7 linked regions of the Homo sapiens genome follow. The protein of the gene in region 2 purifies or fractionates together with the protein of the main gene of each other region. This does not show direct contact. Each region holds a gene or a part of one and is shown on either strand. Other genes may lie near its edges. The genes, in order: DPM1, MIDEAS, ZC3H3, NDUFA10, AVL9, SSU72 and KSR2.

Evidence for each region.
Region 1: the proteins of MIDEAS (region 2) and DPM1 purify together in Homo sapiens (affinity purification with mass spectrometry; one large-scale study listed by BioGRID and IntAct). This does not show direct contact.
Region 3: the proteins of MIDEAS (region 2) and ZC3H3 purify together in Homo sapiens (affinity purification with mass spectrometry; one large-scale study listed by BioGRID and IntAct). This does not show direct contact.
Region 4: the proteins of MIDEAS (region 2) and NDUFA10 purify together in Homo sapiens (affinity purification with mass spectrometry; one large-scale study listed by BioGRID and IntAct). This does not show direct contact.
Region 5: the proteins of MIDEAS (region 2) and AVL9 purify together in Homo sapiens (affinity purification with mass spectrometry; one large-scale study listed by BioGRID and IntAct). This does not show direct contact.
Region 6: the proteins of MIDEAS (region 2) and SSU72 fractionate together in Homo sapiens (co-fractionation; one large-scale study listed by BioGRID). This does not show direct contact.
Region 7: the proteins of MIDEAS (region 2) and KSR2 purify together in Homo sapiens (co-immunoprecipitation; one large-scale study listed by IntAct). This does not show direct contact.

What each region holds. Positions count from the first base shown.
Region 1 is NC_000020.11:50,938,033-50,941,532, forward strand, and holds part of DPM1 (dolichol-phosphate mannosyltransferase subunit 1), read right to left. Parts: intron 3,178-3,500; coding exon of another isoform or gene 3,073-3,177; intron 2,927-3,072; coding exon of another isoform or gene 2,902-2,926; coding exon 2,833-2,901; intron 1-2,832. UniProt on the Homo sapiens protein: Transfers mannose from GDP-mannose to dolichol monophosphate to form dolichol phosphate mannose (Dol-P-Man) which is the mannosyl donor in pathways leading to N-glycosylation, glycosyl phosphatidylinositol membrane anchoring, and O-mannosylation of proteins; catalytic subunit of the dolichol-phosphate mannose (DPM) synthase complex.
Region 2 is NC_000014.9:73,718,804-73,722,303, reverse strand, and holds part of MIDEAS (mitotic deacetylase-associated SANT domain protein), read left to right. Parts: intron 1-794; coding exon 795-1,007; intron 1,008-2,802; coding exon 2,803-2,999; coding exon of another isoform or gene 3,000-3,003; exon of another isoform or gene 3,004-3,295; coding exon 3,296-3,461; 3' UTR 3,462-3,500.
Region 3 is NC_000008.11:143,464,948-143,468,447, reverse strand, and holds part of ZC3H3 (zinc finger CCCH domain-containing protein 3), read left to right. Parts: coding exon 1-66; intron 67-169; coding exon 170-239; intron 240-2,599; coding exon 2,600-2,731; intron 2,732-3,500. UniProt on the Homo sapiens protein: Required for the export of polyadenylated mRNAs from the nucleus. Enhances ACVR1B-induced SMAD-dependent transcription. Binds to single-stranded DNA but not to double-stranded DNA in vitro. Involved in RNA cleavage.
Region 4 is NC_000002.12:240,001,343-240,004,842, reverse strand, and holds part of NDUFA10 (NADH dehydrogenase [ubiquinone] 1 alpha subcomplex subunit 10, mitochondrial isoform 1 precursor), read left to right. Parts: intron 1-3,500. UniProt on the Homo sapiens protein: Accessory subunit of the mitochondrial membrane respiratory chain NADH dehydrogenase (Complex I), that is believed not to be involved in catalysis. Complex I functions in the transfer of electrons from NADH to the respiratory chain.
Region 5 is NC_000007.14:32,568,489-32,571,988, reverse strand, and holds part of AVL9 (late secretory pathway protein AVL9 homolog), read right to left. Parts: intron 1,970-3,500; coding exon 1,835-1,969; coding exon of another isoform or gene 1,823-1,834; intron 1-1,822. UniProt on the Homo sapiens protein: Functions in cell migration.
Region 6 is NC_000001.11:1,572,064-1,576,178, forward strand, and holds the start of SSU72 (RNA polymerase II subunit A C-terminal domain phosphatase SSU72), read right to left. Parts: upstream 2,801-4,115; 5' UTR 2,495-2,800; coding exon 2,415-2,494; intron 1-2,414. UniProt on the Homo sapiens protein: Protein phosphatase that catalyzes the dephosphorylation of the C-terminal domain of RNA polymerase II. Plays a role in RNA processing and termination. Plays a role in pre-mRNA polyadenylation via its interaction with SYMPK.
Region 7 is NC_000012.12:117,755,991-117,759,490, reverse strand, and holds part of KSR2 (kinase suppressor of Ras 2), read left to right. Parts: intron 1-3,500. UniProt on the Homo sapiens protein: Location-regulated scaffold connecting MEK to RAF. Has very low protein kinase activity and can phosphorylate MAP2K1 at several Ser and Thr residues with very low efficiency (in vitro).

The sequences.
Region 1 (3,500 bases), on a different chromosome or scaffold from region 2:
TTGCTTTATTCCCCTTAAGAATCATTTTCTAAGATATTTCTTTTCACTGCCACCTCCTTCCTCCCCATCCACATGGTAACTTTAACACTGTGGCTAGTAAAATAAAATGTTACATGAAGCCATATAATCCCATAAATGCGATTAGGATCCAGGTGGTCTATGCTATTAAATGGCTTTATATTGACTGTAGCCTTTCCAGGATTCCTTTTCTTATTTTGTAAAAAGCACCTTCTTCCTAAATCTAGGGATTTAATGACAAAAATGGGCTTTGTCTAGCGACAAATGAACTTTAATGCATGTATTTAAGAAACCACCACTCTTATGAGAAGACAATGAGATTTAACTATTAAAAAAAATTTTTTTTTTTTTTTGAGACAGAGTCTCACTCTGTCGCCCAGGCTAGAGTGCAGTGCAATCTCGGCTCACTGCAAGCTCTGCCTCCCAGGTTCACGCCATTCTCCTGCCTCACCCTCCCGAGTAGCTGGGACTACAGGCGCCCGCCACCACGCCCGGCTAATTTTTTGTATTTTTAGTAGACGGGGTATCACCATGTTAGCCAGGATGGTCTCGATCTCCTGACCTTGTGATCCACCTGCCTCGGCCTCCCCAAGTACTGGGATTACAGGCGTGAGCCACCGCGCCCAGCCTATTTAAAAAATTTTTTGGGCTGGGTGCAGTGGCTCATGCCTGTAATCCCAGCACTTGGGGAGGCGGAGGCAGGAGGATCACCTGAGGTCGGGAGTTCAAGACCAGCCTGACCAACGTGGAGAAACCCCATCTCTACTAAAAATACAAAATTAGCCAGGCATGGTGGCGCACGCCTGTAATCCCAGCTACTCGGGAGGCTGAGGCAGGAGAATCTCTTGAACCTGGGAGGCGGAGGTTGTGGTGAGCCAAGATCGCGCCATTGCACACTCCAGCCTGGGCAACAAGAGCGAAACCCTGTCTCAGAAAAAAGAAAAAAAAATTGTGCAATTAACAGGTTCACTTTTGTCTGTTTGGCTGCTCTGTCATTTATACAGAACACAGCTAATCATTGCTGTCAATACATGAAAATCCAGAACTCCCAGGCCATCCTTCAACCCCCATCCCCTCCACTAATCCTTGTATGGTTCTGATGCAGCAAACCACCCTCACCCCATTCCTCTCCCTGCTGTGTTTTTCTTCACAGCCTCTATCTTCACAACTAGTTACCAGTTACCCTAGGTTTTTATTCAAAACCATCAAAACTGTGGCCTGTGAAATCCACACTGGCCCTTCCCGCTGTACAGAGATTTTGTGAGTGCCACTATTCTTTGCATTGTTGCCACATGGCAATCAGAGATCTTTTTTGTTTTTTTTTGTTTTTTTTTAGACGGAGTCCCACTCTACTGCCCAGGCTGGAGTGCAGTGGCGCGATCTCAGCTCACTGCAACCTCCACCTCCCAAGTAGCTTAGACTACAGGCCCACCACCACACTTGGCTAATTTTTTGTATTTTTTAGTAGAGACAGGGTTTCACTGTTAGCCAGGATGGTCTCGATCTCCTGACCTTGTGATTCACCTGCCTAGGCCTCCCAAAGTGCTGGGATTACAGGTGTGAGCCACAATGCCTGGCTTTTTTTTGACAGTCTTCCTCTGTCGCCAGGCTGGAGTGCAGTGGCGCAATCTCGGCTCACTGCAACCTCTGCCTCTGGGTCTCAAGTGATTCTCCTGCCTCAGCCTCCTGAGTAGCTGGGATTACAAGCGTACGCCACCATACCTGGCTAATTTTTGTATTTTTAGTAGACAGGATTTCGCCACGTTGCCCAGGCTGGTCTTAAAACTCCTGACTTCAAGTGATCCACATGCCTCGGCCTCCCAAAGTGCTGGGATTATAGGCGCAAGCCACTGCCCATCCACCAGCCAACGCCCATCCGCAATCAGAGATCTTAATCATATCACAAATGACTCTTTAGCCTTAGGGTATAGCCTCCCCTCTCTTTCATCCCCAAGTTCAGCTCTCCAGTCTATTTGCATTTTAGTTCTAGAGAGGCTTCATTTTTCTTTTTGACTGTCAACAGCCAGGTCCTAATTTGTGTGTGTGTGTGTGTGTGTGTGTGTGTGTGTGTGTGTCAATTCTCACATTTAAGGACCTAGATTTTCCTGCATTAAGCAAAGGACCCAAGAATCAACATTATTTAGTGGAAAAAAGTATCAACTAGTAGAAATTATTAAGTAATGTTTGGGGGGCTTGGGGGTCACTAAAGTAGATGCAGGGGCATTTTATAGTTTCAGAGATTAAAAAAAAAAATCTGGCAAGTTTTGTCATTTGCCATGGTCAGTCACACAAAGCAGCTCACATCTACTACAGCAAATCTAGACCACCACCCCATACACCCAGAAACAGACACGCAAAACTCAGAGGGACCGAAGCTTTGTCCAAATTGAACAACAAAAATTTCCTCAAACATATGGAGAACAAGGTAACTGAGAGAGCTCTATATAAATATTAAAGAGTTTAACCTTTTCTGTAGACAATGCTGTAGGTATTCATATGAAATGCAGAAAATTAAGTACATGCTATTCTTTGGAACAGATTATCAGTAATAGCAACATTCCAAAGAGCAGTTGAGCCTTAATACTAATGTTAACAAGCACACAAACCTAACTGCCTTCAGCTTTTTAAAGGAAAAGCACAATATGTCTCCTTGAGATGTTTAGGCTTCATTAGCAACTTCTAGGAATTTTAGTCTGCCTTTTTAGTATCCCAGAATAAAAACAAGGTAGAAATGTAAAGTGTCTCTTTAAAATATCCATTGTAAAGAAAGTTAGCCAAGAAGTTATATAAAAGTAGTGGAAATTTTCACTGTACCTGAAACTTCCTGTTAAATCAGATGCTCCTGGTCTCAGCAAGATCTGAGTTAAAAAATTGGCCCCACGGCTGCCAAATAAAACAATCAGATCTTCTTTACAAAATACAATTTATAAACAAGAGAAACACATCGAAGAACAGTGTTAAAATGCTATACTAATTTCATAAATGTAACATTAATTTCATAAAAATGTTATTTATCTAGAACAAAATAGAAATTTTTAGTCAATGAAAGGAGACCTGGCTAGGCGCGGTGGCTCACACCTGTAATCCCAGGAGGCCAAGATGGCTGGATCACTTGAGCCCAGGAGTGACCAGCCTGGGCAACATGGCAAAACTCCATCACTACAAAAAAAAAAGTGAATATATATATATATATATATATATATATATATATATAAATAAAATACATTCATATAATATATATACACATTCATATAATATGTATATTCATATTATATATTCATATATATTCGTATTATATATATTCATATACATATATATTCATATTATATATATTCATATATATATTCATATTATATATATATATTCATATTATATATATTAGCTGGGCATGGTGGTACGTGCCTGCAGTCCCAGCTACTGGGAAGCTGAGGCAGGCAGATCACCTGAGCTCAGGAGTTCGAGGGCAACCTGGGCCACATGGT
Region 2 (3,500 bases):
TAATATTTTCCTTTAAGTCAACTCATTTTTTACTCAGAAGGGAAGTTTTATATCACAGTGATAAATAGAAAACCAAGGTTGTGTGCTATAAATAGAAGGTACTGGTAAAAATATATGTGAAAACCAGTATTACTGAATTCTAGCTAGATGCTGTGTTACCTGCCAAGGCTGAGACTGAGGGCTGACCTTGCTTTGTTAAAGAGATTATCAAGTCTAGAGAAGTATAAAAGACACATTAGCAGCAACCAGAGACTGAGTCCTTGGCATAATCAGGATTGAAAGAGAATTAAAAGGGAAGGTTACTTAATCCTATGTCCATGTATCCACCTAGCATCATTTTTGGGATTGCAAATCCACGCTTGGTGACATGCTACGGTAAGACAGGGAGTGGTTTGCTGCCCATTTTGCAGGCAGGAAGGTAGTAGAGCTACAGAAAGCATTACAAAGATAGTTTGGAATTGGAACTCAAGGCTTCTGCCTGGCTCACCACATCATTGCCGAGGATGCCTCCTGGTCATCTGTCCAGGAGGATGGGTGGCAATGGGGAGTGACTGGTATGTACCCTCCTTGCCCCTCGTTCTCTCTCAGGTGCTCCCAGGGCTTGAGACTCTTCTGTCCCCATGGCTACTATGCCATGGGGACAGAGTCCAGAGTCCTAGTACAGAAGACTATGCTGGGCCAGCCAGGCGAGCAGGACTAGCTGGGGCTGGTGAACCCCCCGGCCGGGTCAGAATCTGTGCTACAGCAGTGAGACAGAGCTCTAGGCTCACTGCCCTTGTTCTTGTTCCCCATAGACTTCCCAAAAGTTCCCAAGGGTGCCTCTTCCCAGAAGAGAGTCCCCAAGTGAAGAGAGGCTGGAGCCCAAGAGGGAGGTGAAGGAGCCCAGGAAGGAGGGGGAGGAGGAGGTGCCAGAGATCCAAGAGAAGGAGGAGCAGGAAGAGGGGCGAGAGCGCAGCAGGCGGGCAGCGGCAGTCAAAGCCACGCAGACACTACAGGCCAATGAGTCGGTGAGTGTGACCACCATGGGCTGAGCCCAGGGCAAGCAGGGTGGAGCTGGGCCTGGGGGCGTGGGAGGGAGGGTAGAGCAGGACTGTGATCCTCATTATAATCATAATAGCAGGAAATGTGTGAAGTACTTTGTGCTGTTAACTCATTTAATCCTCACTACCCTATGTGGTTAGGTATTACTGTTATTCCCATTTTATAGATGGGGAAATTGTGGCCCAAGATAACACAGCTAGTAGGCAGCCTGAATCCAGAGTCTGCGATTAATTTTTATACTCTACTGCTTCTGTATCTGAGATTCAGAGGGAAAAAGGTTTTGTGAAAACCCAGTAGGTATGTGGGTCACTGAGGGAGCATTGGTGGTTTGCAGACAGGGCTCCCCTAAGAGAGCCAGAGTCCCTGACAAGAATGAGACTGAGCTGAGACCATGGGAATGACAATCATAGGCCCTCAGGCATGATCTCTGCAAAGTGCTTTCATTTCCATTATCTCATTAGTTCCTCACACTGCAGAGTTAACCTCTACTCTGCAGATGGGGGAAAGCAGTTCAGAGATGCTAAGTGACTTGCCCCAGGTCCTTGGACTCCTAGTGCAGTGCTCTGTCCACCATATCACAGGCCAAGAAACAAGACTACTGGCCATAGTTGCTCCTTGCCAGGGAGAGTTCTCCCAGAAAGGGGTAAGGAGGGGAAGGGGTTTATTGGGGAGCTGCTGCTTTTTTAGAGTCTTTTTTTTTAGAAATGTATGTAGTAGGCCGGGCGCAGTGGCTCACACCTGTAATCCCAGCACTTTGGGAGGCCAAGGTGAGTGGATCACCTGAGGTCAGGAGTCGAGACCAGCCTGGCCAACAAGGTGAAACCTCATCTCTATTAAAAATACAAAAACTAGCTGGGCATGGTGGTGCACGCCTGTAATCCCAGCTACTCCAGAGGCTGAGGCAGGAGAATCACTTGAACCCAGGAGGTGGAGGAGGCGGAGGTTGCAGTGAGCCAAGATCATGCCACTGCACTCCAGCCTGGGTGACATAGCAAGACTCCATCTCAAAAAAAAAAAAAAAAAAAAGGAATGTGTGTAGTACACTCATGCTTACAGAGCTCCCATAAACTGTAAACACACGGCTGTGTGCCCACTTCTGAGCCTCGACCACCTGCACCAAGAGCTGTGCTCTGTGTAGCGCTCTACAGAGTTCTGTTGACTTTTGTGAACTTTCCCATGAGGGTGCCACTTCTGATGGCCACCCGGGGCTTCCCCAGCCGAGGTCACCTCTGCTCCCTCTGCTCTGCACTCTGACCCCTGCCCTTGCCCTGTTTGGTGTCCCTGCAGTGCGCTGTCCTGAAGTAGCTACCTGCGCATCTGTCCCTTCCACCAGATCCTCAGCTCTGAGGGCAGGGATGCCTGTGTCAACCTCTTTGTCCCTAGCATCTGGCCCATCACAGGGGCCTGAATCTCATTTATAGAACAGGGCATGAGCGGACTAAATGACAGAAAACATCAACAGGTAGGTGCTTCATTAACCCAGAGACCAAGATCCCCTGTCAGGCGCATCAAGGCCTCTAGCAGCTCGGGCTGCCCCACAGAATTACTCTAGCAGCAACTTTGTAAACGATAGAGCTGACCAGAGATGCAGAGTTGGAGGAGGCAATGGTCGTCATATCCCTGGAAGGACCCAAGTGCATGCTAGGTGACTGTTTGGCAGGAATATATATGACTTTTCAGGCCCCCGGTTCCCTGCGATTTTAGAATTCCAGATCTGCGCTTGCTCAGATCACTCAACTCTCCTTGTTTGATTTTCTTCAGGCCAGTGACATCCTCATCCTCCGGAGCCACGAGTCCAACGCCCCTGGGTCTGCCGGTGGCCAGGCCTCGGAGAAGCCAAGGGAAGGGACAGGGAAGTCACGAAGGGCACTACCTTTTTCAGAGAAGAAGAAAAAAACAGAGACATTCAGTAAGACCCAGAATCAGGAGAACACTTTCCCCTGTAAAAAATGTGGCAGGTAAGGTGGGCAGCGCTGTCCCCGCTGGGACCCCCGCGGGCTGGTGCGCGGAGGGGGCGGGGGTGGGGTGGAGGGGAGGGGGAAGAGGTACAGGCGGTGTCCGCCTCGTTTCTGGTTGGCTCAGCGGGTTTCTAGGGCTGTGACGTCATGGGGCAGCTTTCGGAAAATGACGCGAGCTGGCCGGCCGCGGCTGTGCAGCGTGGGGGTGAAGGTGAAGGCTGGGGCTCCTCGCGCACCCGCGCTGGGGGCCCCCGGGTGGGCTAGGCCGGTTCTGAGCAACCCCCACCCGGCTGCAGGGTGTTTTACAAGGTGAAGAGCCGCAGTGCGCATATGAAGAGCCACGCAGAGCAGGAGAAGAAGGCTGCAGCGCTGAGGCTGAAGGAGAAAGAGGCCGCTGCTGCCGCCGCCGCCGCCCACCAGCAGGCCCTGCGGGAGGAGAGCGGTGCGGGCGACAAGGGCTGAGCGCGGGAGCCAGGCTGGCCCAGTCCTGGGCCTCGGCCC
Region 3 (3,500 bases), on a different chromosome or scaffold from region 2:
CAGGTGCAACCGTGGCGAGCGCTGCCCCTACATCCACGATCCCGAGAAGGTGGCCGTGTGCACCAGGTGCCCTCCTGCCCTCGCTGTGGGCCTGGGGGAGGTTCTGTGCAGGGCCCTGCCCTTGGTCCCTGCCGGCCCTTCCTCATACCCGTTTCTCCTGGTGCTGCAGGTTTGTCCGGGGCACCTGCAAGAAAACGGATGGGACCTGCCCCTTCTCCCACCATGTGTCCAAGGAGAAGGTGAGTGCGGCGCTGGTGGCCCTGCTCCCGTGCACCTTTCTCCGGGGCCTCAGCCACCTGGCCTCCGGGCAGATGGTGCCCACAGCTTTCTCTGGGTTTGGGACATGCAGATCCCTGCCCTGGCGTCCTTAGAGTCTGCTGTACCGTCTCTACCCCATTGCAGGCTTTGCAGCTGGGCTTCCTCTTCCCCGGAAAGCAGCGCTGATAGGGTCTCTGCTCACCACGCACAGGGGTCTCTTTTCCCTTCTCCTGGCAGCACCAGGCCTCACCAGATCCCCAGGCCCCCCTTACACATGCCTAGGGGAAGGTGGTCCCACAGGTGCCCCTGTGGACCCAGGGCTGAGGCCTCAGGGCCTCTTCAGACTGGGGTTGGCAGGAGGGGGGAAGCTGTATGTGAGGGGGCTGGGTGGAGAGGCTGCCTGGGCAGAGGGCGGGAGGGAGGGGCTGGAGGGAGAACAGCTGGACTCCTGGCTCATGTGGTTGTCCCCGCGGCCTGAAACCCAACAGACTTGCTTTGAGCCAAGGTGGGTCCCCTGCTGGGAAGCAGCAAGAGAGCCCTGGGGCTGGGGGGGACATGTGTAGCTCCTGTGCCCCGGACTCAGCCACGGTGTGACCACAGCATGCGAGTGGAGTGAGGGCTGCCTTGGGTGAGGGAGGCGGTGTTGGGCAGGGGTGCTGCTGCCGCAACAGCTTTTCCCCTTGAGGAACTTGAAAAGAATCAGCATTTTTCTCCCTAATAGAGCTTCGGAACTCTGTTGTGAGCAATTTGGAAATTCACATCGAGTTTCGGGTTCATTAGCTCCCAGCTCCAAAGCCAGAGCACATTCCAAGCTGTCTAATGTGGACGCCCCGCACCAGTGCCCTGAATTAATGTTATTGTTATTTGTGTGGACGTGGCGGGGTGCAAACAAGGTTAATTGAAATGAGAATGCAGTTTCCTCTTGATAACAGCCCCGCTCTGACAGCCAAGAGGAGCTCCGTTTGCTGTAGAGTTGGCTTTATCATCCCTTTTTATTAGAGCTAATTTGGGCTCTATATCAAAAACCACATTAAGGGAATTGTCTACAGCCCACCACCGCCAGCCCCAAACGGCCCCCAGCCCCTCTCCCCTCTGCGGCTGCAGTTAAAAGACAATTAGAAATAAACTCCCGCTCGTTAAATCACCCTTTGTTTCTTTGCCTTCTCCCTCCCTCCCTCTCAGCCCTGGCCGCTGGCTCTCTGGACCCCTTCTTCCCTCCTTGGCCTTAGACAAGTTCCTTTCCCATCCCCAACCTTGCCCCAGAAAAGTGACTTTTTAAAGCCTCTGGGTCTGCCCAGATCCCCCAGGGCTCCTCAGGCCCCAGCAGCTCTGAGCAGGCTGGGAAGGGGAGGGGGACAAGGGTAGTGGGAGCAGGGAGGGTGGTCTGACCCAGGAGGGAGGAAGGCCCTGGGAGGGGAGCGGGAATAGCCTGGGGCAAGACTGGAGACCCTGGGGTGCTGGCAGGGGCTCTGTGGGGGCTCCATGCTGAGGCTGGACGGTGACATCCTTGTTCTGGACACCCAGGCAGCCCAGGAAGAGCCCGTGGTGGCCCATGAGGGGCAGGGAGATGTCTCCTGGAGATGGCAAGAGACCCCCTGCTTCCCTCCCTGGGTGGCCCTAGCCCAGCCATTGCTCCTTAGGCCTGAGGTTCCCCCAAATGGGAGGAAAGTTACATTTTTTCCCTCTCCCAGCCCAGTGGTGATAACAAGCACTGACTGTGGCCAGCGGCCCTGTGCTGGGGAGGAAGACGCTGCTGGACCCTTCCTGCTGACAGCCTTGGCCTCCACGGTGCTGGCCTGCAGCCAGTGCCACACCAGCCCTGCTTCCAGGTGGCTCCTGCCCACCTAGAGCCCAGGGACACTGCCTGTGGCCCACGGGTCAGGTGCCTGGAGAGGGAGAGCCCTCTGTTGGCTGCTGGCCCGTGGCTCGTCCTCCCACCTAGACACTGGTCCCCATGGCCTGAGAGGCTCCAAGGGCAGCCCTGGCCACAGGCTAGTGGTTGGGAGCCCTGGCTGCCATCTTGCCCTGGACGGTGGGCAGGCTCAGAACAGGTGAGGGACTCAGAGGAGGGCGCCCCTGAGGCTGAGCCACAGGGCTACAGGGCTGCTCCATGCCTCCTCTGGACAGAGCACGGCAGGGGTGTGGCTCACCTGGGGAGGCTGGGGCCCACTTCTGAGCAGCAGCTTCCCTGCCCCGCAGGTCGTGGTGGCTGCCCTTCCTGCCTGCTGGTGCCGCGTGTCCATTTCTCTCTCGGGCGGGGCCGTAGGAGGGTCCCCAGCCACCGTCTCTGGGCCCTGGAGGGTGGCTGCCTGCTGGCCCTCACTGCCGGCCCTCCCTGCAGATGCCGGTGTGCTCCTACTTCCTGAAGGGCATCTGCAGCAACAGCAACTGTCCCTATAGCCACGTGTACGTGTCCCGCAAGGCCGAGGTCTGCAGCGACTTCCTCAAAGGCTACTGCCCCCTGGGTGCAAAGGTGAGTGGTCTGTGGGGGCCCGAGTGGGCGGGGTTCCTGTGGCTTGTTGGTCCTCTGCTCACTCCTGGGTACCTGCCGTGGTGGCTGGATGACCCATCTGCAGCCCTGAGGTGGTCAGTGCCATCACGTCCACCTCACAGGTGACTCAGAGAGGTCCAGCAACTTTCCCGGGGTTGCACAGCACCAACACAGGGCGGGGTTTGAACCATGGGAAGGTGAGGCGCAGAGGACCTAGACTTCCAGGTGCAGCACTGGTAGCCCCAGGAGCTGGCCCCCCATGGTAGGGGTGTGGTGACTGGGCCGGAGCAGCTCCTGGGATGTTGCTGGGGGCGGCAGTGCAGTGAAGGGGATATTGGAGGCCAGGGAGCCCGCAGGGCTGCAGGATGTGGGGCCAGCAGCCTCCCCAGGAAGGCAGGGGGTGGACGGGACACTCCCACCCAGCCTGGGGCAGAGGGGTGGGCCAGGCAGAGCCAAGGGGGCCGCCTGAGCCGTGGCTGGCAAGGGTGGAGTGAGCTGGCGCTGGAGCTCATTGCGGGGCACCACTGCTGGGTGGAGAATTGGGGACCTGGGCTGTAGCTGATGGCTGCGGCTCCCCTCTTCCTAGGGGCATGACTGACTCCTGTGTTGCAGAGGCACTCACAGGCTCACCTGTCTGGGAAGTTCCCGGCAGTGCAGCCAGCTCCTCCCCTCTGCCTCACCTGCCCTCCTGGGCTTCAGCAGGACTCCCCGCCACAAGCAGCGTGGCCTCAGCATCTCCAGTGGGCCTGGT
Region 4 (3,500 bases), on a different chromosome or scaffold from region 2:
AACAGGGTGGTGAGTAGCTAGGGGTGACAAAGGGCCTCTCTCGGGATGAGGCCTAAGTGAGGCCAGGATTGGGTCCTGTGGGCCGTGGGGTGAGCAGAGGGCAGGGGCTTGGCAGGTGCAGAGGCTCTTCAGGCAGGAGTGTGGTGGGAAGGTGCGCCCAGCAGCCAAGCCAGTGTGGCCAGAAAAAGTGTGGGGAGGGGAGGCCACAGCGGAATGGAGCAGGACTAGGAGAGGAGGCCATGGCGGAATGGGGCAGGACTAGGAGGGGAGGCCGCGGTGGAAGAGGGCAGGACTAGGAAGGGAGGCCACTGCAGAAGGGGGTAGGACTAGGAGGGGAGGCCACAGCAGAAGGCGGATAGGTCTTGGTGCGTTTGGTGGGTTTTCTTCTGATGAGATGAGATGCCGTTTGGGGGTTTGAAGCAGAGGAGTAATACGATATGACTTATATCCATTCAGCTATTGTGTGGATTCTTTGGTATCTATTAAATGAAAAACAAAAACCATACCGATTAGGTAAGGTTGAAAAAAGCTGTCTTCATCTGCACCACTCTATTGAAACTGCTCCTGCCAAGGAGACGGCCTCGCCATTCCAGATGCGGCAGACCCTTGTCTGTCTTCATGCTGCTCCCTGGCCCTGGAAGCAGCACCGCTGCCCCTCTTCTCCACTCCCTTCTCCTGGTTCCATGCCCTCCTCCTCCCCCACTCTCTCACTCCTCCACCAGCTGCTGCCTTCTGGGGCCGGGCTCTCTTTTTCTGGTTCCTTCTGCCTGCTGCTGGGCTCTGGCAGGCACAGTGACCCCGGGCAGTGTCTCGTCCGTTGAATTCAGTTTCTTGAGGACGTACCTAGTCACACAGCTGTGGATAGCGTGGATACCACCGTAGGTCTTGGCCCAGACCTTTACCCTGCACACCCAGCAAATATCCCTCGGCTGCCTCTTGCAGTGTCTCTGTGCATTGACCTTCCCACCGGTGATCCCCAGCTCTGCCTCTTCTGTCCTGGCTGGTGCTGGCCACCCGGGAATCTCATCCTGCTTGGGTCTGTCCTCCACCACCCACCCCCTGCTGCTTCTCATCACTGCAACGCCCAGTTCCTGGTACAGGCCTCATATCCAGCGTGCACTCAGGAGATGTATCTGGAGTGAGTGACTTTGATTTCTTTTAGGGCTATAAATTCTACAAAATTCAGAGATGATTTTGTAATGAGAAGTGCTGTTGTATCATAATTCTGATTATTTATAAATCAAGATTGGAGTAATTTGAGGGTCTTTGACTTGTGAAAATGCAGGAAACATGAGTAGCTATTTGGGGATCTGCCTTTTGTGTTAAGTCTCGAGCCCTTGGCCTGAGCCTGCCCTGTGCTGCTTCCTGCCTCTACCCAGGATGCTCTGTGCAGACTGCACCAACACTTTGCCTCTCGAGGGCCTGGAGGCACAAGGATGGCCGGGGCACTCAACTTCCCTCTCCTCAACGTTTGGATGTAAATTAGGAAGTTGGTGCCTACAGATGGCAGCTCTGTTCTTGGCCCTGTGATGTTGGTGTTCTTAGGCCGTTGGTGCTTACCTTCTTTCTCTGCCTGATGGGATGTGAGTGATACAGTAGTCTCCTAGGATGACCAGAGGGACAGCTGGCTCACTGCACATGTCACTAAAAGTTCACTGATCAAAATGTAAACAGAATGTGTAATAAGTTTACTTCTGGCCAGGCAGCGTTCACGTCTGTAAACCCAGCACGTTGGGAAGCTCAAGTGGGAGGATTGCTGGAGCCCCGGAGTTCGAGACCAGCCTGGGCAATATAGTGAGACCCCATCTCTACAAAAAATTTAAAAATTATCTGGGTATGGTGGTGCATGCCTATAGTTTCAGCTACTTGGGAGGTTAAGGTGGGAGGGTCACTTGAACCTGGGAGGTTGAGGCTGCAATGAGCTGTGTTCACGCCACGGTACTCCAGCTTGGGCGACAGAGACTCTGTCTCTCAAAAGAAGTTCACTTCTGTTTGATGTTTTTAGTACAGCATTAATAAGCAAAAAATAGGTTTACATTAAAAAAAACTAGTCATTCTACTTAGTTTGTTAATTCCTGCCCCCCTGTTAAAATAGTATTTGCAAAATCAGTTTTCTAGTTAGTGGAATGGATACTGAAGGGTGAGCAAGGTAGGCACACTGTGGGGTCCTCATGTCAGACTGAGGAGACGGGAAGGGTCAGGTCAGCCCTTAGCTGGCTGTGTGACTTGGGACAAGTCACTTTATCTGCCTGTGCCTCCATATGTAAGATTATGGCAGTGAGGTAGAGTGCTAGGCCATGTGTATTGAAGGAAAAAACAAATATAAATTTCATATATTATATTCCATATACTGACTACTGTATAAAATGGTGTTAATCTAAAAGTAGCTTACTGAAATGATTGGCTCTCTAGAAAGTCTTTTGAAAGGAATCTAGCAAATCTTCCATTAGAAAGTAAAACAAACAACAAAACCCGCTTTCCTTGTCTTTTTTTTTTTTTTTTTTTTTTTTTTGAGTCAGAGTTTTGCTCTTGTTGCCCAGACTGGAGTGCAGTGGCGCAATCTCAGCTCACTGCAACCTCTGCCTCCTGGTTCAGGCGATTCTCCTGCCTCAGCCTCCTGAGTAGATGGGATTATAGGCATGCACCACTATACCCGGCTAATTTTTTGTATTTTTAGTAGAGACAGGGTTTCGCCATGTTGGGCAGACTGGTCTTGAACTCCTGACCTCAGGTGATCCACCTGCCTCGGCCTCCAGAAGTGCTGGGATTACAGGCGGGAGCCACTGCGCCGGCCTTCCTTGTCTTTCTGAGCCATTACTAGGAGATGGAAGTAAAGCACAAAGCACTGCTTTTGGCCTCTGAATAAATATTCTGCATCCTGGAGACAATGGCCAAGGGTTACAGTGCCTACTCCAGGTGGACAACACATTTCAACCTGAGGGCCGTGAGTTTGCTGATTGACAGGGCGACCGACCAGAAATTAGAGGGGTCCTCTGAGGTGTCTGAATGTAGAAGTTTCTCTGAGTCATTGAAGTCAGCTGATTATTCCCTGTGCAGCCATTTTTGTTGCAAAGTCAGTGTGTGCTTTGCTGTGAACTGTGGCAAGGGCCATCAAACATTGGTTTATTCCGAGTAATTTTAACTTTAGGACAGGGATGCGTAGGTGATGGAGACCAAGAGGAGAAAATAAAAGTATATTTCTGAGAAGAAAATGATTGTTGTAATACCAGAGACTCACCATTTCATAACCAGGTCAGAAGGATCCCTTGAGAGGGACTCAGCCACTCACCTGTCACTGTGCCCCTGGGCAAGGGGCCTAACCTCTCTGAGCCTCTGTCTCCTTGTTGTAAAGCAGGAAGAAAATAGAAGCTACCTCATAGGACTGTTGTGGGGATTAAATGTGGGAATAATTTGAAAGGCTCAGAACCATGTGTATATATCATAAGTACTAAAGTTTTAGGGACTATGTTATGATACTGTTTATGGTATATTATTATACT
Region 5 (3,500 bases), on a different chromosome or scaffold from region 2:
GATTTCACCATGTTAGCCAGGATGGTCTCGATGTCTTGACCTTGTGACCCGCCCACCTTGGCCTCCCAAAGTGCTGGGATTACAGGCGTGAGCCACTGTGCCCGGCCAGATACTTTAGAATGTCTTATTATGTAATATTTGATATACTAAAAAATACATGTAACGTACAGGTTAGTTTTGAAGTATAATAATAAAAAAAATTCCTACGCACCCACCAACCAACTACAGAACTAGAATGTAACCAATAATGTTGAAGCAGCTTTATGGTCCTCCCATCTGTATCCTCCTGTCTTGGAAAATGTACTTTTTCTTCTTCAAATTTGGGATTATAATAAATACATCTTTGAATCCTGGACTTTCATTATATTATAACCATTCACCCAAGAAACATGTTTTCATACTTTCTGTCAGAAACTACAAAAACCTTAGTGTGGGTGAATTTTTTTTCTTCTTTTTTTTTTGAGACAGAATTTCACTCTATCGCCCAAGCTGGAGTGCAGTGGCACGATCTCGGCTCCCTGCAACCTCTACCACCCGGGTTCAAGCGATTCTCCTGCCTCAGCCTCCCAAGTAGCTGGGATTACAGGCACCTGCCACCATGCCCAGCTAATTTTTGTATTTTTAGTAGAGACGGGGTTTCACCATGTTGGGCAGGCTGGTCTTGAACTCCTGACCTCATGATCCACCCGCCTCAGCCTCCCAAAGTGCTGGGATTACAGATTTGAGCCACTGCAGCTGGCTTTTTTTTTTTTTTTTTTTGAGACAGGGTCACTCTGTCACCCAGGCTGGAGTGCAGTGGTGCAATCTTGGCTCACTGCAACCTCCACCTCCAAGGTTCAAGTGATTCTCCTGCCTCACCCTCCCGAGTAGCTGGGACTACAGGCATGCACCACCATGTCTGGCTAATTTTTTTGTATTTTTAGTAGACATGGGGTTTCACCATGTTGGCCAGGCTGGTCTCGAACTCCTGACCTCAGGTGATCTACCCACCTCGGCCTCCCCAAGTGCTGGGATTACAGGCGTGAGCCACTGCGCCGAGCCTCATAAAATTTCTCAAAAATTATTTCAGGCTGGGCGCGGTGGCTTACGCCTGTAATCCCAGCACTTGGGGAGGCCGAGGTGGGTGGATCACCTGAGGTCAGGAGTTCGAGACCAGCCTGGCCAACATGGTGAAACCCCATCTCTACTAAAAATAGAAAAAATTAGCCGAGCGTGGTGGCGGGCACTTGTAATCCAACCTACTCAGGAGGCTGAGGCAGAAGAATTGCTTGAACCCAGGAGGTGGAGGTTGCATGGAGCCGAGATCGCGCCATTGCACTCCAGCCTGGGCAACAAGAACGAAACTGTCTCAAAAAAAAAAAAGAAAAAAGATTATTTCAGTTGTAAAATAACAAATGATTTGAATTTCGTATATATTGATGTCAAATATTTATTCCTAGCTTTCGTCTTGGTATCAAGAGCATTCTAAACAGGCTAGAAGGATTGAAATTACTTAAACAACAAACACATGTTAAAAATCATGAGGTAGTGGTAGGCCCAGTTGCCCAGGTTGGAATCCTGGTTTACCTGTTTACTGGCTGTTTGATATTGTACAAATCACTTCATCTCTCTGTTACTTAGCCTCTGCAGGTATAAAATGTGGATAGGACAGTGCTATTGACTGTGTTTTTATGAGAATTAGACCAGTTAATACACATAAAATACTTAGAATACATGGCATACAGTATGCAGTTATTATCATTACTAATGTTGTTACTATGTATTCATAATTGTAGTTAAGAAAGGAAAACTGGGATGAGCAGGGCCAAATACACACACTCACACATAAACGTACTTCCACAATGGCATCACTGAGGTGTTTCTGTTGTCGAAAAAGGATGTTAGTAGCTCCAGCAACAAACCCCCGAACGGTGACATCGGAGAGAAGATGATGCTGCTGCAATGCCATGTAAGGCAAACACAGATATCCCTATGAATTAGAAGAGTAATAGAAAATATCAGAAAAGTAAAAGGTTACCTTTCTCTTTAAACTTAGTGAGCTAACAGTAGGAAAAGAAACTTCCATTCTTCCTTGCCCTGTCTGTAAGTCAGCTAATCTTTGACTCAATAAAATAATATTCCAGGGGAACTTCAAGTCTTGACTACAGTAAGTCCAGTTAATGATTAGCTAATTGTCTCCATGAATGGTCAAATCTTGGCAAGGTGGTTTAATATGAAGGTTGTCTTTCTTGATCACTTTGTTCTCATTCAATTTAAAAGTCTCCACAGTAACTAATGAATTGAACCTTTTCACTTAGGAAATGAAGCATTAAGCCTGTTAGTAAGTACGTTGTTTAGTAGAAGGCTGTTAAAAATTTAAAATACATGCATCTGCACATAACCACCGAAGCACTATTAGGAGAACAGCAAGGTACTACATAGCATTTGTTATACCGTCCTATGTTAAAAATCATGCAAAAAGATTTCAAGATATTTGTTACTAAATATTTAAAGCAAAAATGACACTGGTAGTATCTGTGTATTTAATTAATTTCCATTTGAATTTTATTTGAAAACAGCATTGCTCCAAAAATTACAGTGGAATTGCTAAACTGCAGCAGGCATCTAAGTATAGAAAAAATCCAGCATACTTCCTGAGAGTACAAGTGTTAACACTGGAATGATTGACTGAAGGAAGATATGCAATTTCTGCTGAAAGATTCTAAATCAGAATGGGTTTTCAACAAGTGGCATGACTTGTATATACAGCCAGGAAGGCAGACTCACTGAGCCCCTCAACTTGTTTTCAGCCTCAAGTTCTATAAGTTTTATTTTTTTACATCTCATCACTTTTTAAAACACAGAATTATGTCATCTGGATAATATCGTGTTTACATCATGAGACAAATCTCTCTGAAGGCAGGGGATATCCGCTTTGCAACTTGATATTCTTTATTCCAACTAGGAGAGCGCTTTGTGTGTAACTAACAGGTGGTTGTTAAATACTTAACATGAAAGGGAAGACTTCCAAAAGTTGGAATATATGTCTGGTAATTTGGTTATATTCTTACTCTTGAAAATGTCTTTTGTTGCTTGATCAGACCCTAACAGAAGCAGCAAAAATAAATCTATACCTTTGCATTAGAGATGCTCAGTATAGAGCTTCTCAACCCAGGCTCCTCATTCAGAATCAGTATTATATTTCATAATAATAACAAAACTAAAAAGTATGTTTTTAAAAAGTAGGTCAAAGCTTTCAAGAAATGTTTAAAAATCCTTTAAAAATTTATAAATATGTATGCCTTTTGGCCCAGCATTCTACTTGTAATTTATCCTACAGTATCCTACAAATATTATATCATATGTGATATTATATTTATGAAAATAAATGCAATACCAAAAAACTCGAATCCAAACTCTTCATGAATAGGGGACTAAATAAATGTTCATCCATACAATGAACCTGCAGCCATAAACAGTGATGATATTCATCTCCAAAGAATATTATGGGCTGGGCATGG
Region 6 (4,115 bases), on a different chromosome or scaffold from region 2:
GGATTACAGGCGTGAGCCACCGCGCCCAGCCCTAAATAGAATTTTTAAAACATTTCCTTTTGTTAAGATTTCTACTCCATCTTGCCAGGCGCAGTAGCTCACGCCTATAATCCCAGCACTTTGGGAGGCCCACGCAGGCGGATCACGAGGTCAGGAGATCGAGACCATCCTGGCTAACATGGTGAAACCCCGTCTCTACTAAAAATACAAAAAAATTAGCCGGGCGTGGTGGCGGGCGCCTGTAGTCCCAGCTACTCAGGAGGCTGAGGCAGGAGAATAGTGTGAACCCAGGAGGCGGAGCTTGCAGTGAGCTGAGATAGCACCACTGCACTCCAGCCTGGGCTACAGACTCCCCCTCAAGAAAAAAAATATATATTCTACTCCAACTTTATTTTATTTATGTATTTATTTGAGATGGAGTCTTGCTCTGTCGCCCAGGCTGGAGTGCAGTGGCATGATCTCGGCTCAATGCAAGCTCCGCCTCCTGGGTTCATGCCATTCTCCTGCCTCAGCCTCCCGAGTAACTGGGACTGCAGGCGCCCGCCACCACGCCCGGCTAATTTTTTTGTATTTTCAGTAGAGACGGGGTTTCATCGTGTTAGCCAGGATAGTCTCAATCTCCTGACTTTGTGATCCGCCCATCTCGGCCTCCCAAGGTGCTAGGATTACAGGTGTGAGCCACTGCGCCCGGCCTACTCCATCTTTGTTATGCAGGTACAGCAGAAAATCTTGAACAAAGGATCACCAAGGAGAACCAGCAGAACCAGAAGGTCTCCAGCCCATTTGTTATTCCAATTAACAATAATTTTGTCTTGGGGGGGGGGGGGTGAGCCTTGCATTGTTTTGCTTAAATGTATCAAATTTTTACAGGTAACTGCAGTTTATAAATGAAGATCCAGCACAATGTAATTCTAGCACATTTCTAGTTTTAAAAACAACCTTTGGCCGGATGCGGTGGCTGACGCCTGTAATCCCAGCACTTTGGGAGGCCGAGGCGGGCAGATCACCTGAGGTCAGGAGTTTGAGATTAGCCTGGCCAGCATGGTGAAGCTCCGTCTCTACTAAAAATACAAAAAAAGCCGGGCGCAGTGGCTCACGCCTGTAATCCCAGCACTTTGGGAGGCCGAGCGGGCAGATCACGAGGTCATAAGATCAAGACCATCCTGGCTAAGATGATGAAACTCCGTCTCTACTAAAAATACAAAAAAAAAAAAAAATTAGCCGTGCCTGGTGGCCGGTGCCTGTAGTCCCAGCTACTCGGGAGGCTGAGGCAGGAGAATAGCTCGATCTCGGGAGGCACAAGTTGCAGTGAGCCGAGATCGCGCTACTGCACTCCAGTTTGGGCGACAGAGCAAGACTCTGTCTCAAAAAAAAAAAAAAAAAAAAAAAAAAAGAAAGAAAAGAATAAAGAGAAAGAATCAGCAGATCATGAACACTTGACACTGATTTTTGGGGGGTGTTTTTTGGTCTCCAACTCCTGACTTCAGGTGATCCGCGTGCGTCGGCCTCCCAAAGTGCGGGGACTACACGCGTGAGCCACCGTGCCTGGCCCACGTGACACTGTTAAAAACGGAAAAAAAAGGGGGACTGTTAATTTTCCCAAGTTGCTCAGGAAAGTTATAGCTGGACTGCGAGAAGAGAAGCGAAACACTGTTTTCATTTAAAGTTCACGTAGGTAACTTTGGAGGTAAAAAAGCCATTTCAACTTTCTTACTATCAAAGTTGACACATACCAAATTTTAACTGTAAGTCAAGTGGTCAGTTTCTCAGTTTGCTATGTGACTGAACAAAAAACTTGTTATCAAGCAGGAATAAACTTTCATTAGACATACGCTACGCAAGAGTCACAGGCGGCCAGTTAGCAGGGAATATAAACTAGCAGAGCCAAACCAAGTCCACGTTGTATTCCAGAAACTACCGGTTGGAGGCGTTCCAGGGAGGAAGAGAGGATCTTTCGCAAAAAAAAAAAAAGAAGAAGAAGTAGCAAACACACAAATCCATGGCATTAAAAAAAGAGACCGCTTTGTTATTTACAACATCGTGGTATGCCGTGATTGTGTTGCGCGCCGTTTCCAGGGAAGGTGGCCAACGACGCACACGAAATACCATGATCGGCCGCCGCCGCGCAGCCCCTCGCCGCGGACGCTACCCTCGCCCCCCGGGCCCGGCCTCGGAGAGCTCGAAGGACCACCGGACAGCGGGCGCCTCGTCCCGGAACCTGCCTTCCCTGTGATGCCCACCCGCGTGTGGACTACGCGCGCTGCCGTCCAGCTGCCATCCCAACCAGCCGACCCACGAGCGCGGCCCGGCCCGGCTTCCTCTCAGGGGTCCTGGCGCGGGCCAGGGGGAACCGGGGAGGAGGGAGGGCCGGTCGCCGGAGCAGAGCGCGCGGGGACAGGGTGGAGCCCAACTACCTGAGGATGTTGTGCGCCTCCATGCTCCGGTTCTGGTTGCTCGAGCACACCACCGCCACCCGCAGCGGGGACGACGGCATGGCGGCGGCCGCAAATCCCGCGGCTCTCCCGCTTGGGTTCCCACCCTACCGCGGCGCTTCCGCGCGAACAAAATGGCGGCCGCGGTGGCCGGAAGCGGGCGACGCGAAACGACGGCGCCGGCGGTGTAGCGTGCGGCGACTGCGCGGCGGCCTCCCCGCCCACCCTGGGCGCCGGGCCGCGGACGGAGCGCAGGCACTGGCCTTCGGGCGCGCTGCACTCGGCGAGGCCGGGGGCGGCCAACGCCGCGCCGGCCCCCGGCGTCCGCAGCAGAGACCCGCACTCCACAAGGCCCGGCTGAGCGTCACGGCGCCAAGCGGCGGCGTCCTGACATCAGCACCCCGCGCCGGCGCCTAGTGTGACGCGACGACGTGCGGAACAACAGGACGTCATAAGGTGTCGCCGCCGCCTTTGGGAGCGATGCGAAACGCCGCGCTTGCCGGAGATAGCATTGAGGGCCCTTCCGCGGCCCGGCGTTTCGTCTCTTGGGACGATTTTGTGCGTTCCCTCGGTCCCCGTGGGGCCCATAGTCCTCACTTCTGCCACCCCAGAGTCGTCGCGCTTCACTAGACCCGCTCCCTCCACTGTCCCGGAGGCCCACAGACATTCCCGCATTCTGAGGCTCGCTCCCGTCCCGTGCCGCTGTTACCGGCCTCCGGCCCCGGCTCATACAAGCAGGAGCACATCGCTCTTTTATGAAAGCCCTTCAACATTTAACGTTTAAATGCGAGGGCCGACCTGTGACAGACCTGGTTGGGAGTGCACGTCGACTAGGATCTTCCTCGCCTCGGGCTTCCTTGGAGAGGCCGCCGGCTGGTCTGAGATTTGGGTCCAGTTACAGTAAATCCAGTCAACGCGAGTGTGTCATTCCCCAGCTATGCCTGTCTGCCTGGATGCAGCCTCGCGGTGGACAGTGGGCTGATGTTTTGCCGTGGGAGCGCCACGGACGGGAGAGGGAGTGATAATGATTGTCAACCTAATAACAGGCTAACTGAAAATGATATTTATTTGGGAATAGGGCGTTGGCGAATATGCGTGCCATAGTAAACGATTTGCGCATTCAGGAAAGTAATGGTTTTTAAAGAAAAAATGAAGAGGAAGATAATGGTTTGGAAATAATTAACCTTGGCTACAAAGAACAGTAACAAGTGTACTCCCGGCCGGGCGCGGTGGCTCACGCCTGTAATCCCAGCACTTTGGGAGGCCGAGGCGGGCGGATCACGAGGTCGGGAGATCCAGACCGTCCTGCCTAACCCGGTGAAACCCCGTCTCTACTAAAAATACAAAAAATTAGCCGGGCGTGGTGGCGGGCGCCTGTAGTCCCAGCTACTCGGGAGGCTGAGGCAGGAGAATGGCGTGAACCCGGGAGGCGGAGCTTGTAGTGAGCCGAGATCGCGCCACTGCCCTCCAGCCTGGGCGACAGAGCCAGACTCCGTCTAAAAAAAAAAAAAAACAAGTGTACTCCCGTTCCAGGGTTGGACAGGCAGTTGCTGGGCAGCTGTCCTTGCTGAAGTATTTTTTGTGTAAGATTGCCTTAGTGCAAGGTTGTGGTTTTTGCAGAATCTTGTGATAGTTTTTCTTATTATTGATTCATGAGAATTCTCCATGGCCTTTCCCAGCTGT
Region 7 (3,500 bases), on a different chromosome or scaffold from region 2:
ATTATGTATATTTTATCACCATTTTAAAAAGGCAGGATTCTGTAAGTGAAGGGTTGGCACACTTTTTCTGTACAGGGGCAGATAGTAAATACTTTAGGCTTTGCAGACCATTCAGTCTCTGTTGCAGTTACTCAACTCTATCATGTAGCACAAAACCAGCACAGACAATAGGTAAACAAATGGGCATGGCAGTGTTCCAATAAAACTTTATTTATAAAAACAGGTACCTGGCCCAATTTGGCCCATGAACTGTGATTTACCAAGCCCTGTCTGAAGCCGTAGTGTAGAGAGTGATCTCTTTTCTGAAGCATTGGGAATGCCCTACAGTGATTGACGTGGAACATGTGATTTTACAACAGTCATATTTAAGCTGCTATGTGAAACCTAGCTTGAAGACGTAGAATGCATGTTTGAGACCTCTGAGGGTGAAGCAGAGGATAGATGCTTTTCTGATTGGAGTTGTGTTTGATTTGCATGGTTTTGTGAGAGCCACAGAGATTGGGGCCTGCTGAAACCTCAAGGTGAAGATGTGGGGTAAAGTTCCAGGAAGGCTGGGAGTGCAGGTTGCTAAGGTGGAGGGTGGAAGAGGCATTTGGGGTTTGGTTGCTACGGTGGCCCCACACTTTGTGCTTCTCCCTGTCCCTTTCCCAGGGTGCACCACTTAGTAAGGCGAAACTTGATCAGAAAGCCGACTCTCCAGACACATCATCTTCTAATCTGCAAGATGGAGGCCAAGTGAGAGAGGCTGCCCTTTGGTTTTTAAATGCTGTCCTTTCCCTAGACCCCTGAAGGATTTATTCTGCCTGGATAGGGTTGAATGGCCCACTTCTTCAAGGCCTTCCAAATTGACTTGGCCACCTTTAGTGTTTTTTGGAATTTGTGTATCAGGACTCAGGTGGCGTTAAGCTTTGCCCTTCAGGTTTCTTCTGGCTGAGTTAGCAAGCTCATCACTTCCTCAAGGCTGGTAGTTCCCTGGCCCACCTTGGGGGATGCTGTGGTTCATGGCAAGGAAGCAGTAGAGGAGAGGAACAGAGTGGTCAGTTTGGTGATGTGGAAAATGCCGTGGGACCACTTAGCCTGGGACCATGCCTCCAGGTTCACAGGGATATCAGGGCAGCAGGCCTGGGGGTGTTAAAAAAACTAAAACATAAATAACAGCAACCTGAATAATGTTGGCAGCGGGGGTCATGGGTAGAGGTGAATTCTGATCAGGATTTATAAAGGAGGCGTTAGTTGAGGTGAGTCCCAATTATTAGACTGATAACAACAGTCATCATTTACCTGGGTCTAAACTAGTCCTGATCCTGCCAGGAAGTAGCCTTTTGACCTTGGATTTAACCTCTCTGAATCTTAGCTTTCTCAGCTGTGGACCCAAGAGGTTAGAATACATTTGTGTTTTTAAATTTGTGGTCATGACCCATTTGTGGTTGATAGCATTATTTTAATGGCTTGTGACCAGCATTAAAAAAATGAAATAGACTAGCCTAGACTAGAGTATATTGGAACACATTGCATCTGGTAAGCGTTTTAGTGTTGTTTTGTAAAACTTGTTTTCAGTAAGTACAGGCATACTTCAGAGATATTGTGAGTTTGGTTCCAGACCACCACGATAAAGATCCCAAAGTGAATGACACGAATTTTGGGTTTCCCAGTACATAGAATAGTTATGTTTTATACCATACTGTAGTCTATTAAGTGTATGATGGCATTATGTCTTAAAAAACAATGTACATACATTAATTTAGAAATACTTTAATACTAAAAAACACTAATGATCATCTGAGCCTTCAGTGAGCCATACTCTTTGCTGGTGGAAGGTCTTGCTTCAATGTTGATGGCTGCCGACTGATCAAGGTGATGGTAGCTGAAAGTTGGGCTGATTGTGACAATTTCTTAAAATACAACAATGCAGTTTTCTACATAGATAGACTCTTCCTTTCACAAAAAATTCTCTGTAGCATGTGATGCCGTTTGATAGCCTAGTAGAACTTCTTTCAAAATTAGAGTCGATCCTCTCAAACCCTGCCACTGCTTTGTCAACTAAGTTTATGCAATATTCTAAAATGTTTCTTGTCATTTCAACAATGTTCAAGGCATCTTTACCTGGAGTGGATTCCATCTCAAGAAACCACTTTCCTTGCTCATCCGTAAGAAGCAACTCCTTGTCTATTTAAGTTTTATCATGAGATTGCAACAATTCAGTTATATCTTCAGGCTCCACTTTTAATTCTAGTTCTCTTGCTGTTTCCACCGCATCTGCAGTTACTTCCTCCATTGAAATCTTGAATGCCTCAAAGTCATCCATGAGGGTTGGAATCAACTTCTTCCAAACTCCTGTTAATGTTGATATTTTGACCTCCTTCCATGGATCACGAATGTTCTTAATGGCATCCAAAATGGGGAATCCTTTCCAGAAGATTCTTTTTTTTTTTTTTTGAGATGGAGTCTCACTCTGTCACCCAGGCTAGAGTGCAATGGAGCAATCTCGGCTCACTGCAACCTCCACCTCCTGGGTTCTAGCAATTCTCCTGCCTCAGCCTCCTGAGTAGCTGGGATTACAGGTGCCCACCATCATGCCTGGCTAATTTTTGTATTTTTAGGAGAGATGGAGTTTCATCATGTTGGCCAAACTGGTCTTAAATTCCTGACCTCAGGTGATCCACCCACCTCAGCCTCCCAAAGTGTTGGGATTACAGGCGTGAGCCACTGCACCCGGCCTCCAGCAGGTTTTTATTTTACTTTTCCCAGATCCATCAGAGGAATCACTATCTATGGCAGCTATAGCCTTATAAAATGTATTTCTTAAATAATAAGACTTGAAAGATAAAATTACTCCTTAATCCATGGGCTGCAGAATGGATGTATTAGCAGGGATGAAAATCACATAATCTGTTTGTACATCTTCATCAGAGGTTTTGGTTGAGCACATGCATTGTCGATGAGCAATAATATTTTGAAAGGAATCTTGTTTTTTCTAAACAGTCGGTCTCAACAGTGGGCTTAAAATATTCAGCAAACCATGCTGTGAACAAAAGTGCTATCATCCAGGCTTTGCTGTTCCATTTATAAAGTACGGGCAGAGTAGATTTAGCGTAATTCGTAAGAGCCCTAGAATTTTTGGCATGATAAATGAGCATTGGCTTCAGCTTAAAAGTCACCAGCTGCGGTAGTCCCTAACAAGAGAGTCAGCCTGTTCTTTGAAGCTTTGAAGCCAGGCACTGACTTCGTCTCTCTAGCTCTGAGAGTCCTAGATGGCATCGTTGAATATAAGACTGTTTCATTTACATTGAAAATCTGTCATTTAGTGTAACCACTTTCATCAGTGATCATAGCTAGATCTAGGTAACTTGCTGCAGCTTCTCCATCAGCACTTCCTGCTTCACTGTACTTTTATGTTATGGAGACAACTTCTTTCCACAAACCTTATAAGCCAACCTCTACTGGTGTCCACATTTTCTTCTGCAGCTTCCTCACCTCTCTCAGCCTTCATAGAATTGAAG